Homo sapiens: one gene and its partners. The protein of the gene in region 2 purifies or fractionates together with the protein of the main gene of each other region. This does not show direct contact. Each region holds a gene or a part of one and is shown on either strand. Other genes may lie near its edges.

Region 1 (4,186 bases), on a different chromosome or scaffold from region 2:
TAATGTGGCTAATGAACATCTTAATACATAAATTCTTCTGATTATTTCTTTCTTTCTTTTTTTTTTTTTTTTTGAAACGGAGTCTCACTGTGTTGACCAAGCTCGAGTGCAGTGGTGTGATCTTGGCTCACTGTAGCCTCTGCCTCCCAGATTCAAGCAGTTCTTCCTGCCTCAGCCTCCTGAGTAGCTGGGATTACAGATGCCCACCACCATGCCTGGCTGGTTTTTGTATTTTTTAATAGAGATGGGGTTTCAACATGTTGGCCAGGCTGGTCTTGAATTCCTGACCTCAGGTCATCCGCCTGCCTCAGCCTCCCAAATTGTTGTGATTACCGGCGTGAGCCACTGCACCCGGCCTGAGTCTTTTTTCTTTTCTTTTTTTTTTTTTGTGGAGACAGAGTCTCTCTCTGTGGCCCGAGCTGGAGTGCGGTGGCTCAATCTCAGCTCACTGCAACTTCCGCCTCCTGGGTTCAAGCAATTCTCCTGCCTCAACCTCCCGAGTAGCTGGGACTACAGGCGCCCGCCACTAAGCCTGGGTAATTTATTTTTTTAATTTTTATTTTAGTAGTGACAGGGTTTGGCCATGTTGCCCAGGCTAGTCTTGAACTCCTGAGCTCAGGCAATCTGCCCGCCTCAGCCTCCCAAAGCACTAGGATTACAGGCATGAGACCACGCCTGGCCCTGGCCTGATTATTTCTTTAGGACAGATTGTCAGAGGTGAAATTTCTAGGACAAGGTTTATGAACATTTTAAGAATCTTGTTTCATATTTCCAGATTACTTTCTTTTTCTTCTTTTTTTTCATTTTTCTTTTTTTTTGTTTTTCGAGACAGGCTCTCACTCTGTTGCCCAGACTGGAGTGCAGTGGTGTAATCACGGCTCACCACAGCCTCAACTTCCTGGGCATAGGTGATCCTCCCACCTCAGCCTCCTGAGAAGCTGGGACTACAGGCACGTGCTACCACACCCGGCTAATATCTTATATTTTTTTTTTATAGAAAAAGATAAAACCATGTTGCCCATTCTGGTCTCAAACTCCTGGGTTCAAGTGATCCTCCCACCTTGGCCTCCTAAAGTGTTGGGATTATAGGCTTGAGCCACCGTGCCTGGCCTCCAGATTACTTTCTGGAAAGAGTGTACTAATTTCTACTCTCACCAAAACTTTGAGAGTACGTGTCTCTATATGTTTTCACTAGGATGAAAGGATTCAGGATTATTCTATGTTTTTTATCATAGAAGTTTAATAGGTAAAAATTCCATTGCTATATTTTTTGGAAGTAATGTCATGGTGACTATAAAATCCTCTCTTGATGCGACAGCTTGAGATAGAGCCACACTGGTAGTGCTTCTGATTTATTGTCTCTGTGTGTATGTGTCTATCTGTCTGTGTGTCTCTCTCTCTGTCTCTCTTGATTCTTGTGGCTATACTCTAATTTCCCTTTGACTAATTCTTCCTGTCCAGGAATGACACTGTGCGCTTTGCTTTGGATGTCCTGGCTATTCTTACTGTGGTGCCAAAAATCCAGCTCCAGTTGGCAGAATCAGTGGACGTGTTGGATGAGGCTGGATCTACAGTCTCTACTGTAGGTAGGTTGTACTTTGCCATTTTTGTTGTTTCTTGGTCTGGATTTGTTTTTTCTTTGCCACTCTGGTCTTGGTTACTTACCTGACCTAATTTTGGATTTTAGAACAGAAGTAGTAGAGGGGGGCTCCTTGTCTGTCCTTTATAAGGAGTACCATTCAGCAGATCAGGAACTAATTTAAAAAAAAAAACCAAAAAACAAAAATACAAATGTAGGACCAGATAGTTTGATGTAAGGGAGTCATGCTAGTAAACTCAGGTTTTCTGAGTGGTACTGGCATTTCTGCTATAATGGTATATTATAGCTTTCCTGAAAAGCTCACACTCTGAAGAGTCTTGCACTAAAAATAAAGTTCATGGGAAAAATGGGTTGAGGCAGATAGTAAAAAACTTAAGCATCACAGCTTTCCAGGAGTTAAAGGGAAAAAAAAACAACAAAGTAAGCAGTTTTGTAACCTGAGTCAGTAATTGGCAGGTAGCTCAAAATGGGTAGAAACCGTCATACATATATAAAAAAAGGAAAATATACTTTGATAATATACTTTATTAAGAGCAAGGCTGATCAGGGCACTGCTGGGGTGAGCATGGGAAGTCGTGTGATGGGACAAGATGCAGGATAGGACTAAGACACAGGCACTTGGTTTTTAATTTTCTTAAAATAGAGTGGAAAGGGTTCTGCTTCCACAGTAGCAGCCCAACCGAGGGCTTTCTCCGTTCCTAAGGTTTTAGTGTATTAAAATTAATAAACCAGAAAAGGTCGAGCACAGTGGCTCACACCTGTAATCCCAAAACTTTGGGAGGCCGAGGCGGGTGGATCACCTGAGGTCAGGAGTTCCAGACCAGACTGGCCAACATGGTGAAACCCCACCTCTACTAAAAATACAAAAATTAGCTGGGCGTGGTGACAGGCGCCTGTAATCCCAGCTCTTTGCAGGGATGAGGCAGGAGAATCACTTGAACTCGGGAGGCGGAGGTTGCAGTGAGCCAAGATCACGCCACTGCACTCCAGCTTGGGCGACAGAGCGAGACTCTGCCTCAAAAAAATAATAAAACCAGAAAAAATTGCACATGAACCTTGATTACTTTTCCATAATTATGACATGATTTCCCTATTTAATAACTGCATATGAGATACCATAAAAATACATTGTAGTAGAACTGTCTGCACTTTATACAAACCCTTGCAGTTTTTACAAAAGTAATATAGTTTTTTAAAGTAAAAGTGAGTAGAACACCAAATTTTGACTCTGGAACAACTATTGAAGTTGGCCATTAGTTTTATGGTGAATAATACATAATTTTTTTTCCCATTAGGTATCAGCATTATTTTGGGAGTGGCTGAGGGTGAGTTCTTCATCCATGATGCTGAAATTCAGAAGTCAGCACTTCAGATTATCATCAATTGTGTGTGTGGCCCAGATAACCGAATATCCAGTATTGGTAAATTTATCTCTGGTACTCCTCGGAGAAAGCTGCCTCAGAACCCTAAAAGCAGTGAGCACACCCTGGCCAAGATGTGGAATGTGGTTCAGTCCAACAACGGCATCAAGGTGCTCCTGTCCTTACTGTCCATTAAGATGCCCATCACAGATGCAGACCAAATCCGGGCCCTGGCCTGCAAAGCCCTAGTGGGCCTGTCTCGCAGTAGCACTGTCCGGCAGATCATCAGTAAACTGCCCCTTTTCAGCAGCTGCCAGATCCAGCAGCTGATGAAGGAGCCTGTGCTGCAGGACAAGCGCAGTGACCATGTCAAGTTCTGCAAGTATGCTGCTGAACTCATTGAACGGGTGTCAGGAAAACCACTTCTCATTGGCACTGATGTTTCCCTAGCACGACTGCAGAAAGCAGATGTTGTTGCCCAGTCAAGGATCTCCTTCCCTGAGAAAGAGCTGCTTTTGTTGATACGAAACCATCTTATTTCTAAAGGGCTTGGAGAAACAGCAACCGTGCTGACAAAAGAGGCTGACCTGCCCATGACTGCTGCCTCCCATTCTTCTGCCTTTACCCCAGTCACTGCTGCTGCTTCTCCTGTCTCTCTACCCCGAACCCCTCGTATCGCTAATGGCATTGCAACTCGTCTGGGCAGCCATGCTGCTGTGGGTGCCTCTGCGCCTTCTGCCCCTACTGCTCATCCTCAGCCACGGCCCCCCCAGGGTCCGCTAGCTCTGCCCGGCCCATCTTATGCAGGCAACTCCCCTTTGATTGGTAGAATCAGTTTTATCAGAGAGAGGCCATCACCCTGCAATGGCAGGAAAATCAGAGTGTTGCGGCAGAAGTCGGACCATGGTGCCTACAGCCAAAGCCCAGCCATAAAAAAACAGCTGGACAGACATCTTCCTTCCCCACCTACGCTGGACAGTATAATCACAGAGTATCTTAGAGAACAACATGCTCGCTGCAAGAATCCAGTTGCCACCTGCCCACCTTTCTCCCTCTTTACTCCTCACCAATGTCCTGAGCCAAAACAGAGGCGGCAAGCGCCAATAAACTTTACGTCAAGGCTAAACCGCAGGGCATCATTTCCAAAGTATGGAGGGGTGGATGGCGGATGCTTTGATAGGCACCTTATCTTTAGCAGGTAAGAAGAGGCCCCTTCTTACTCCCT
Region 2 (4,186 bases):
CCATTAATTTAAGCAAATAAATTTCAGCAACATCGAATGTTCTATTTTTTACTCCTTTGTTCCTGCCTTTTAAATGCCCTCTGTTATTACCTTTTCTATGCACAGGAGTCCCTTCTCTTATATTGGAGAGTCATGTTTGAAGGTAGCTCCTGGAAAACCCCAAGAGTTGATGTAAAATAAACAAAATGCTAGTGAAGTTTAACAATGCTCAGGAAACATTGGTTCTTATAGGCAGTAGGCATAATTTTGTATAGACTTTAGCAAGCCATCTGTTGTGATTTTGTCAGAATTATTGTATGTAATATGGAGAACTGTGGGTTAGACACAGCGAAGACTAACTAGATGAGCAACTTCTTTCTGAAAATAAACTCTGTCCTCTGCCTTGCTGAGATTTTTTTTCTATTGGAGGTATTGCTCTGGGTTAGAGATTTACAGACTTTTCTTTAGCAATGTGAAAAAACTTGTCTTACAGGGAACCTCAAAAAATAAAGTATGTTTTATGGAATAATCTAATTTGGCTAAGGTGTGATTAGTTGGAGCAGGGGTAGGACAGGGAATCCCAGCCATTTGGTCTCTTTCTCCCCTACCTGGACAGTTTGTGGTCCTCTGAGAAGCTCAGTTTGGAAAGTTCTGCAGTTCATGACACACACGGGAGTTTCCAACCTGAGGACTTCTGATAACTAATAATTTTATAAACCAATGATATTTATAATTTCTGACTTTCTTATCTAAGAATATATTAATGAGTATTGTATACTTGTGTTTTTTTCCCTTTGTTTTTAACAGGAAAAACCTTTGCCCGTGATATGTTCTACATCTGCAGCTTCTCTAAAATCGCTGACCAGAGACCGTGGCATGTTATATAAAGATGTCGCTTCTGGGCCATGTAAAATAGTGATGTCTACAGGTAAATTCATATTTTAAAAATAGTATAGAATTACTAATCTTTTATCCTGTATTATTTTCAGTGTCTTCGAAGTCCTGGAAATAAAATAATAAGGGAAAAAGATGGTAATATTAAACATTTATCTTTGCATTTTTCATATTAAAGTATTTTGAAATTCTGATTGTTCCATTTTACATTAAGGAAAAAGTCTTTAAATACATGAGTCACTTGAAAATTCAGATACTCTTAAAGTATTTTATCCATTTAAGTAAGATTTATGCAATTTACATTGTCCAATCTATTCTTGTTTTCCCTTTATCTCATTTCAAAATTTGTCTTTTTGTATGGTATGTATTTTCAAAGCTGCCTCAAACCTTTTCTTAATGCCTTTTAAAAATTATCTCCCTTACACTCTCCTATTCCCTGGACTTTTTTTTCCTTTTAATTTTTCTTTCCTGACTAAAAGTAAATTTAGTTTTTTAAAAATAGAAGTCACTTTAAAAATGATTGTTGTAACATATCTCATTTTTTTCAGTTTATTATTTCTGATTTTTAATTAGCAGGAAAGACTAGCTAAATGGATATAACACAAAGGAGATAAAACATTGAAATCCTTGTTTAGCTTCGCTTGTGTTCAGTAGAATTTGTCCATGTCATCAGCACCGTGGGTTGAATTTTTAATAGCTATTTCATTTCTGAAGGATAACAGTCCTTCCTCTGGCTGTTGCCACAAAATTGAATTGTATATTTCAACAGAGCAAAACTGAGATTGATCAGTTTTCTTATACTAAATATAGACTATGTGTGTGTGAAAGTTTTGCAATATTAATTAATGGATTAAAAATAACATGCTTCTTAGGGGGACAATTTATTTTATTTTTGGTAGTGATGTGCCCTCATGTTTTGTTTCTTTGTTGTTTTTTTTTTTTTTGAGACAGTCTCACTTCATCACCCAGGCTGGAGTGCAGTGGCGTGATCTTGGCTAAATGCAACCTCTGCCTCCCGGGTTCAAGTGATTCTTCTGCCTCGCCTCCCAAGTATCTGGGACTACAGGCATGTGCCACCACACCCAGATAATTTTTGTATTTTTAGTAGAGATGGGGTTTCACTATGTTGGCCAGGCTGGTCTCAAACTCTTGACCTGAGTTGATCCGCCCACCTTGGCCTCCCAAAGTGCTGGGATTACAGGCGTGACCAACTGCGCCCAGCTTCCCTCATGTTTTTATAGTGTATATTGATTTGCATTTGTTGATTCTCAGTAAAGAAAATTATTGGAAGTTGGCATTTATGTGATTATAGATGAATTGCTTCTATATCATATGCTTTTATTATACTAAGGAAAGAGTTTATTTTAAAATTTTCTTCCATGAATCTTGGTATATATAGAAGGAACATTTTTATTTTCCTAAAATTAATAAAATATTAATATATATCAATATAACTTGTTATATATATCTTAAATTGTTTGGTTACTTTAGAAAATATAATTGAGGTGCAGTATTGGTGATTTAAAATAAATTCAGTCCAAAAAAGAGCATAGCAAGATGACCCGTTTTGAAAGGAAATTCTTGTACTGTGTATACAATTAAAAGATGAAAATATTCATCTGTCTTTGTGCCATTTTATATAATGTGGGAATGTATGAAGAATTGTTTTTGTGATGTGCCTAAAATGTCTGTAGATTTTATATCATCAGTTTGGACAAGATTCTAAAAAATTGAATAAACATTTTGATTGTTTCTTTGTGGGTTCAGTGTCTTTGCATCAATGTAAAAATATATTTACATATTTTTAGGTAGCAGAAATGATCATTGATATTAACTATATTTAGGTTTTCTGTGAGTGAAGTGGATAGTGGGATATAGTAATTGATTATGTAGTGTTTTCACAAAATTTCTTTTAATCAGTCTCATTGTTATGTATGCATACGCATTTTTTCTCAAGTCTGTGTCTATGTAAACAAACATGGAAACTTTGGCCCTCATCTGGATCCCAAGAGAATCCAGCAGCTGCCTGACCACTTCGGCCCGGGCCCGGTGAATGTGGTGCTTCGCCGGATTGTGCAGGCCTGTGTGGATTGTGCCCTTGAAACTAAAACTGTTTTTGGATACCTGAAGCCAGATAATCGTGGAGGAGAAGTGATAACTGGTATACTTATCTAATACATTGTCTAATTCAGTCCCTTCCCCCTTCCCTTCCCCCTTCCCTTCCCCCTTCCCTTCCCCCTTCCCTTTCCTCTCCCCTTCCCCTTTCCCCTCCCCTTCCCCCTCCCCCGCCCTTTCTTCTTTCTTCCTTCATCTTTTTAGAACAGGGTCTCACTCTGTCACCCAGGCTGGAGTGCAGTGGTGTGATCTTGGCTCACTGCAGCCTCCACCTCCCAGGTTCAAGCGATTCTCCCACCTTAGCCTCCTGAGTAGCTGGGATTATAGGCATGCGCCATCATGCCTGGCTAACTTTTGTATTTTTAGTAGAGACAGGGTTTTGCCATGTTGCCCAGGCTAGTCGTGAACTCCTGGCCTCATGTGATCTGCCCACCTTGGCCTCGCAGAATGCTGGGATTACAGGTGTGAGCCACCGCACCTAGCCTGTAATATTTATTATATTAGTATAATAGAACATTTATAGGAGTTATATGTTTATAGACTTTAAGCCCTGGTTTGAAAAGTTTACTTTTAAAATGGACAAATGATGTCAGAATAATGTAAATTGGGACAAAAGTCACAGATTCTTCGTTTTACATGCTGTGTTAAGCTCACTATAGGCAGAGTACCTTGGCTGATAATATATTTTATCTATAAGAAGCTCTAAATAAATATGTGACTCAAGAAGTCACTAAGCAATAAGATAGTGTTGGTGGCTATGATCAGACACCACAACATTCATACCCATGGAATATTTGGAATAGAAGGAAGTGTTACATAGATCAGTGAGTTTCTGTTGTTGTTGTTGACTTAAGAGTATTTTCAAATGAGGATGTTTTTACCAATACAGGCTATTGTGTTTGAGAGGAGCTTTTATAATATAAGATCATTCCTTTATGAATTACAAAGAACACAAATTAGACTTATAATACCTTTCCTAAGGTGATAGTTTTTTTTTTAATTAGTGTTGTATTTCTCATCTCTCTGAGGTTACTGACATCCTTTTTTTTCCCCCAATAGCCTCCTTTGATGGGGAAACTCATTCCATCCAGCTCCCTCCAGTGAACAGTGCATCATTTGCTCTTCGCTTTCTTGAGAACTTCTGCCACAGTCTGCAGTGTGATAACCTTTTGAGTAGCCAGCCTTTTAGTTCTTCCAG
Region 3 (3,424 bases), on a different chromosome or scaffold from region 2:
CACACTGGTTCTCAATGAAAAATAGTGTCTTTGTGATTTTGAGTAAAGCTCCTATCTGTTTTCTCCTTCTGTCTCTGTGGTTGTACTGTCCAGCAATCCACCTTTTCTGGAGAGGGCCACCTCTGCCCAAATTTTCCCAGCTGTTTGGACCTCTGGGTGCTTTCTTTGGGCTGGTGAGAGCTCTAATTTGCCTTGGGCCAGTTTCAGGTTTATAGGCCCCCTCAGTCTTCAGATACATGAGGGCTTCTTTGCTCTTGTGATCGTGTAGTCCCATAGCTGTAAAACCAGAATCACCAGGAGGTTGCACCTAGTCAGGAATATTGGGAATGGCCTAGAACAAGGTGTTTGGCACATAAGTAGACCACTTATCCCTCATTGTGACCTAATTCCAGAGCATCTGGCTGGGTTGTTGGGTTCTAGACTTTGTCCTCACCTCCCAGTGACCCTGACTAGCCACAGGCCATGAGATACCAGGGGGCCGTTCCTTGGATGGAGCCTGTGGTTGATGCAAGGCTTCCTTGTCCCCAAGCAAGTCTTCAGAAGGTTAGAACCCAGTGTTGACTGAGTCTGTGCTTGAAACCAGGCCAGAGCCATGGATTAGGAAGGGCAAAGAGAAGGCACCAGAATGAGTAAAGCAGGCAGGTGGTGAAGCCAACCATAAACTTCTCAGGAGTGACATGTGCTTCCTTCAAAGGCATTTTTGTTAACCATATCCTTCTGAGTTCTATGTTTCCTTCACAGCTGTTCTATCCATTTTGTGGACTGTCCCCCACCCCCACCCCATCATTGTTTTTAAAAAATTAAGGCCTGGCGCAGCAGCTCATGCCTATAATCCCAGCACTTTGGGAGGCTGAGGCGGGCGGATCACTTGAGGCCAGGAGTTTGAGACCAGCCCAGGCAACATAGCAAAACCCCATTCTGCTTTAAAAAAAAAAAAAAAAAAAATTAGCTTGGCGTAGTGGCATGTGCCTATAATCCCAGCTACTGGGGAGGCTGAGGCACAAGAATCATTTGAACCTGGGAGGTAGAGGTTGCTGTGAGCCGAGATTACGCCCCTGCACTCCAGCCTGGGTCACAGAGTGAGACTCCATCTCAGAAAAAAAAAAAATTGAGTCAGGTGCAGTAGCTCCTTCCTGTAGTCCCAGCTACTTGGGAGGCTGAGGCTAGAGGATCACTTGAGCCCAGGAGTTTGAGTCTAGTCTGGGCAACATAGCAAGACCCCATCTCTAAAATTTAAGTAAGTAAAAGTAGATAAATAAAAAGAAAAAAAAACTGTTTATGTGCTCATCATAAAGTAGAAGAGTGGTTTGCTTTTTTTTTTTTTTTTGGATTAATGAGGAAATCATTCTGTGGCTCTAGTCATAATTTATGCTTAATAACATTGATAGTAGCCCTTTGCGCTATAACTCTACCTAAAGACTCACATCATTTGGCAGAGAGAGAGTCGTTGAAGTCCCAGGAATTCAGGACTGGGCAGGTTAAGACCTCAGACAAGGTAGTAGAGGTAGACTTGTGGACAAGGCTCGGGTCCCAGCCCACCGCACCCCAACTTTAATCAGAGTGGTTCACTATTGATCTATTTTTGTGTGATAGCTGTGTGGCGTGGGCCACAACATTTAATGAGAAGTTACTGTGCACCAAACTGCCGAACACCATTCTAAACTATTCATATATATTAGTCATTTAATTCTTACATAACTTGAGAGGTAGACAGATATCCTTATTTTAGAGATGAGGAAACCAAGAGAACTTAGGTCATTAGCGCAAGGTTGTAGAGTAAGCGGCAAAGCCAAGACACAAAGCTGGGTGGTTTGGTTTCAGAGCCAGTGCTTTTCCCCTCTACTGTACTGCCTCTCAACCAACACAGGGTTGCACAGGCCCATTCTCTGATTTTTTTCCTCTTGTCCTCTGCCTCTCCCTCTAGCTCCCACTTCCTCTCTGCTCTAGTTCATTTTCTTTAGAGCAGCCCGAGTGATCATGAAGTGCAAATCTTGCCATGTCAGTCCCCTGCTTAGAACCCTCCAATGGCTCACTTTCTCTTTAGGCAAAAGTCTTTACCCCATGCCTTCTCCCATCTCATCTCAACCCCCTCATTTGTTGGCTGTCTGCTGTCAGCCACTCTTCTTTCAGGTCCTCAGATGCACTGCACCCTCTCCTGCCTGGGGGTCTTTGCTCCTGCTACTACCTCTGCTTGAACAGCTCCTCACCTTCCTTCCTCCAACCCTACCCTTGTATAGGTGACTTTTGTTCATCCTTCAGAATTCAACTCACATGTCTCTTGCATGGAGAACCCTCACCTACTGTGTTGAGACCCTGTCCAGCCCCCAGGTGGGATCCTCTCTCGACTTCCCATACATTTCTTTCACAGCATTTACATAGTCCATGATAGTTTACTTGTGGGATTATTTGGTTAATCTTTGCCTTTAACACCAGGGTTCCTTGGGTGAAGGAGCTTCTTTATCTTGGTAACAGCATTATTTCAAGCATAACTTGTAATATAGTTATATTACATATATAACATATATATATATAACATAACATATATAACATATATAACAAGCATAACTTGTTATATAGTCTTGTATATAGTAAGACCTCAATAAATATTTGGAGAACAAATGAATGTTGAATGCACACATCAATAGTGAAACTTCTATAGCTGCATTTGGCCTCAGAATCTCCGTCAGCATTGGAATTTACAGCCTTAACAGCCTTTATTGTCTTAAGGGTTGAGAAAAGAGGCCCTAATGCATGGACTGCTGGGCAGATGTGATAGGTGATTGCACAGGCCCCACCCACGCAGATCTGCTCACCCAAGGGGTTTCTGCCTGTGAAACTCTTCTCCCGTGAGAAGGGGAGAGAGCACCCCTTCTTCTCCCGTGAGAAGGGGAGAGAGCACCCCTTCTTCTCCCGTGAGAAGGGGAGAGAGCACCCCTTCTTCTCCCGTGAGAAGGGGAGAGAGCACCCCTTCTTCTCCCGTGAGAAGGGGAGAGAGCACCCCTTCTTCTCCCGTGAGAAGGGGAGAGAGCACCCCTTCTTCTCCCGTGAGAAGGGGAGAGAGCACCCCTTCTTCTCCCGTGAGAAGGGGAGAGAGCACCCCTTCTTCTCCCGTGAGAAGGGGAGAGAGCACCCCTTCTTCTCCCGTGAGAAGGGGAGAGAGCACCCCTTCTTCTCCCGTGAGAAGGGGAGAGAGCACCCCTTCTCAGGTGCCCACTTGCCTGGGACATGGTAAGTCTTACCACAGGGAGAACAGATGGGAATGTGTGCTCCCACAAACGAATTCTTCGGCCTCAGGGCTGGAAGGATTCTCCCACATTGTTTTTTGTTTTTGTTTTTTTTTGAGATGGGTTCTTGCTCTCTTGCCCAGGCTAGAGTGCAGTGGCTTGATCTCTGCTCACTGCAACCTCCACCTCCTGGGCTCAAG
Region 4 (4,186 bases), on a different chromosome or scaffold from region 2:
TCATCAGAGAGGTAGAATGAGAGATAAGTATTAAGAACAGCTACCTCACCCCAGAAAGGGGTTTTGCAGTTTTTAAAAGCTTGACCTCCATTCGAGCTCTGATTTCATCTTCATAACCCCTGGAGCAGGCAGGGAAGATATTGTGTCTATCTTGCAGATGATGAAACCAAGATTCAAAGAGATTAAGAGTCACTTAATTAAACTGGGCATGGTGGCTCAAGCCTGTAATCCCAGCACTTTGGAAGGCTGAGGCGGGCAGATCACATGAGGTCAGGAGTTCGAGACCAGCCTGGCCAACATGGTGAAACCCTGTCTCTACTAAAAATACAAAAATTAGCCCGGCGTGGTGGCAGGTGCCTGTAATCCCAGCTACCCAGAGGCTGAGGCAGGAGAATCACTTGAACCCGGGAGGCGGAGGCCACAGTGAGCCAAGATCATGACATTGCACTCCAGCCTGGGCCACAGAACAAGATTCCATCTCAAAAAAAAAAAAAAAAAAAAGAGTCACCTAGTTAAGAAGTTAGCTCACCCCCAGTGTTTGACTGCCTGCCCTCTCTACCACACAGTGGCAGAACACAGAGGAGCTTTGTTAGGAAACGGAAATACACTGAATGGAGAGAGTGTGGTAAGTTTGTCTTCTCAGTGGAAGCACCAGCCTCACAGTTAAGTCCATATAGGAGGCCAAGGCAGGCGGATCACCTGAGGTCAAGAGTTCAAGACCAGCCTGGCCAACATAGCTTTCTACTTTCTAGTTTTCTACTAAAACTAGAAAATTAGCTGGGCGTGGTGACGGGCGCCTGTAGTCCCAGCTACTCAGGAGGCTGAGGCAGGAGAATTGCTTGAGCTCAGGAGGTGGAGGTTGGAGTGAGCCGAGACTGTGCCACTGCACTCCAGCCTGGATGACAGAGCGAGACTCCATTTCAAAAAGTAAAAAAAAATTAAAAATTTAAAATTTAATTTTTTTTTTGACGGAATCTCGCTCTGTCGCCCAGGCTGGAGTGCGGTGGCACGGTCTCGGCTCACTGCAAGCTCCGCCTCCCGGGTTCACGCCATTCTCCTGCCTCAGCCCCCCGAGTAGGTGGGACTACAGGCGCCCGCCACCATGCCTGGCTAATTTTTTGTATTTTTTAGTAGAGACGGGGTTTCACCATGTTAGCCAGGATGGTCTCGATCTCCTGACCTCATGATCCACCCGCCTTGGCCTCCCAAAGTGCTGGGATTACAGGCGTGAGCCACCGCGCCCAGCCAAAATAAAATTTTTTACTCCTTAGAAGGACTGGTGCGGTGGCTCTCGGCTGTAATCCCAGCACTTTAGAAGGCAGAAGCGGGCAGATTGCTTGATCTGGGTGGTTCAAGGGCATCATGACAAAACCCTGTCTCTACCCCCTCCAAAATACAAAAAAATAGCCAGGTAGTACACGCCTGTAGTCCCAGCTACTTGGGAGGCTTAGGTGAGAGAATCACTTGCACTCAGGAAGTTGAGGATGCAGTGAGCCATGATCACGCCACTGCACTCCAGCCTGGCCAACAAAGCGAGACTCTGTTTCAAAAAATAAATAAATAAATAAATACAGGAAATGAATATCACTGAATCATTTCATAGTAGGTGCATTTCTTGTATATCTCCTAGGTGTCTAGCATTATGCTAATTATTATAGAAGCTACATGAGGTCTATAAGATATGGCCCCTGGCCTCTAGGAGTTTACAGGGTAGTTGGGAAAATCGAGATATCTGGAACATAATATAAAACAATATCCAATTAAGTGCTTTTTTTATAATCACAGGTTTTGGACCAGAAAAGATGTTAGAGATTGCTGGTCAAACCTCCTTCCTTTCAGGTGAATAATTACTGTGAGGCAGTTCAGCTCCTCTGGTGTTAAAGCCCCAATTATCACTTATCTGCCCTCTCTTGCAGGAGTGAGCCTTAGGGCACAATTTCCAATTCAGTGTTAGAAGGTAGAGGAAGAGTTGGAAAACTCTTTGTAGTTTAGGAAGCACTTTCACGTCAATTATATCATTTATGCCCCTACAAACAGCCCCAAGAGGCAGGTATTATTATAACCGCTTTATAGGTGAGAAACTTGAGTCAATTCCTTCTCCAAAATTACAGTTAGGTCCCCATGCAGGAATAGGGAAAATGGATAGATGCTAGTAATTTAGGGACAATCTCCACTACCTGTCACTTACTTGCTAGTTTTATTATTTTTTATTTTTGAATGTATCTCTGTTTTTTAAAATCACCTGTTAAAGTGGAAGTATTCTCAGAGGAGCTGAAGTTTATCAGCTTTCCTTGGACTTCTCAGAGAGCTTCTTAGTGGAAGGCCAACTGAAGAACCCCATTAGAAGGAGAGAAAGAAGGAAGAAAAAGATCATCACATAGAAAAGGGAAGAGTGTCAAAGACAAATGATAACTGCATGACCAAGGAATTTGATATCACAGTGAAAGAGGAATATTGGATGAGGGCAGAAAGAAAAGAAAGGCAAACAAGGGATGGCAATTGAGAAAACTTGAATGTTTTTGAAGGCAGGAGAAATGAGTTTTCCCATTCTGAAGATAACAGAGACTGAACATGTCATTGTAGCACCATGTACTAAAGTACACTTGGAAGAAAACCCTCTTCCAAGATTCTCCGTATTAGCTGATGTCATTGCTATACTCATCTTTCCTATTTGGGGAGACAAGTTGTCAGGATGGAAAACAACTGTGGTCTTTTCATTCAGAAAACATTGATTAGGTAGACAGAACTGTGTGAATTGCTATGGGGGTAGCAGGGACATAAAATAGTGCCTGCCCTTTGGGAAATTAATAAAATAGAATGGAGCTAAGAGGGACACATCCAGAAAGACAGAGCCATACACAGGCCCATTCATGAAAAGCCACAATCTGTATAACGAAGAACCAAATAAATGAATGGCCCAACAGCAAAAGCCTCCGGATCATTATTGCTGATCCATTATCTTATATAATATGTTAATAAGCATTTTGATGAGAATTGTGAGCATATTTATGAGAAGGAAAGAAATGTTATTTAATTGTTTTTAGAGGTAAGGGCTACTATACATGCAATGTGCATGCACACAACAAACACACACACACACACACACACACACACACACACACACACTCCCCTTAGTCATAAACCTAATTGCTGAATACTATTCCTGGCCAACACACAGAACATGATTTTTGTCAGTCAGGACACCGCACAAACACTTCATCTGCATACCATCCTGGGCACACCCTGGAACTTAGCATGTCATGGCTCTCACCCCATCCACAAATTTGCATTCCCCTCTCTGACCACAGCCTCCTTATTAGTCGCCTCTCCCACTGTCCCACACCCAAAGAACCTGTCATTCAGCCACACCAGAATCCTTCAGGCACCTACCTTCCCAACTTCATGAGAACATGCCCAGGCCCACTGAGTCTCTCATCCAGCCTGGACCCCATGACAGGAGGGTAGCTTCAAATACTCCTCCACTCATGATGATTTCCTTGACCCTGGGAGCTCCTGACATTCTAATTCTCAATTAAAGGTCACACCCACTGCCACCACTTTCTATGCAGCTACTACTGTTCCAGAATCAAAGAACTTTGCCAAAGCGAGGTGCAGAACCACAGAAAACTCACCATTACAAACCTGTGGATTAATGCTTAACAACCCGGACAGGACCCAGGGCTGCCAGAACATTCTTGCAGTCATATTTGTTGGTCTTTTTCTAGAAACCCCACAAATGTAAATCTCTCTTCAGTTGTTCATTGCCTCCCACCCCCATGGTCCCTCCAGCAGGATGTCTCAGTTCCTACTCTTCTTAGGCCAGCTGTCCCCAACCTTTTTGGTACCTTTGTGGAAGGCAATTTTTCCACAGATGGGGTGGAGGGGATAGTTTTGGGATGAAGCTGTTCCACCTCAGATCATCAGGCATTATTTTCTCATAAGGAGCACGCAACCTTGATCCTTTGCATGCAGTTCACAATAGGGTTCCCACTCCTATGAGAATCTAATGCTGCCGCTAATCTGACAGGAGGCGGAGCTCAGGCCATAATGCTCACTGGCCCACTGCTCCCCTCCTGCTGTGCAGCCCGATTCCTAACAGGCCATGGATGGGTACTGGTCTGCAGCCCAGGGGTTGGGAACACCTGTCTTAGGAGATTGCAGATCTCTGGTAAGAAAATGCCCCAGC

What was found.
Region 1: the proteins of SCML2 (region 2) and DCAF1 purify together in Homo sapiens (affinity purification with mass spectrometry, with the first as the bait; one large-scale study listed by BioGRID). This does not show direct contact.
Region 3: the proteins of SCML2 (region 2) and BAG1 fractionate together in Homo sapiens (co-fractionation; one large-scale study listed by BioGRID). This does not show direct contact.
Region 4: the proteins of SCML2 (region 2) and CSTA purify together in Homo sapiens (affinity purification with mass spectrometry; one large-scale study listed by BioGRID and IntAct). This does not show direct contact.

The regions. Positions count from the first base shown.
Region 1 is NC_000003.12:51,419,707-51,423,892, reverse strand, and holds part of DCAF1 (DDB1- and CUL4-associated factor 1), read left to right. Parts: intron 1-1,461; coding exon 1,462-1,586; intron 1,587-2,895; coding exon 2,896-4,159; intron 4,160-4,186. UniProt on the Homo sapiens protein: Acts both as a substrate recognition component of E3 ubiquitin-protein ligase complexes and as an atypical serine/threonine-protein kinase, playing key roles in various processes such as cell cycle, telomerase regulation and histone modification.
Region 2 is NC_000023.11:18,256,892-18,261,077, reverse strand, and holds part of SCML2 (sex comb on midleg-like protein 2), read left to right. Parts: intron 1-786; coding exon 787-907; intron 908-2,830; coding exon 2,831-3,034; intron 3,035-4,047; coding exon 4,048-4,186. UniProt on the Homo sapiens protein: Putative Polycomb group (PcG) protein. PcG proteins act by forming multiprotein complexes, which are required to maintain the transcriptionally repressive state of homeotic genes throughout development.
Region 3 is NC_000009.12:33,251,666-33,255,089, reverse strand, and holds the end of BAG1 (BAG family molecular chaperone regulator 1), read left to right. Parts: 3' UTR 1-2,619; downstream 2,620-3,424. UniProt on the Homo sapiens protein: Co-chaperone for HSP70 and HSC70 chaperone proteins. Acts as a nucleotide-exchange factor (NEF) promoting the release of ADP from the HSP70 and HSC70 proteins thereby triggering client/substrate protein release.
Region 4 is NC_000003.12:122,328,019-122,332,204, forward strand, and holds part of CSTA (cystatin-A), read left to right. Parts: intron 1-4,186. UniProt on the Homo sapiens protein: This is an intracellular thiol proteinase inhibitor. Has an important role in desmosome-mediated cell-cell adhesion in the lower levels of the epidermis.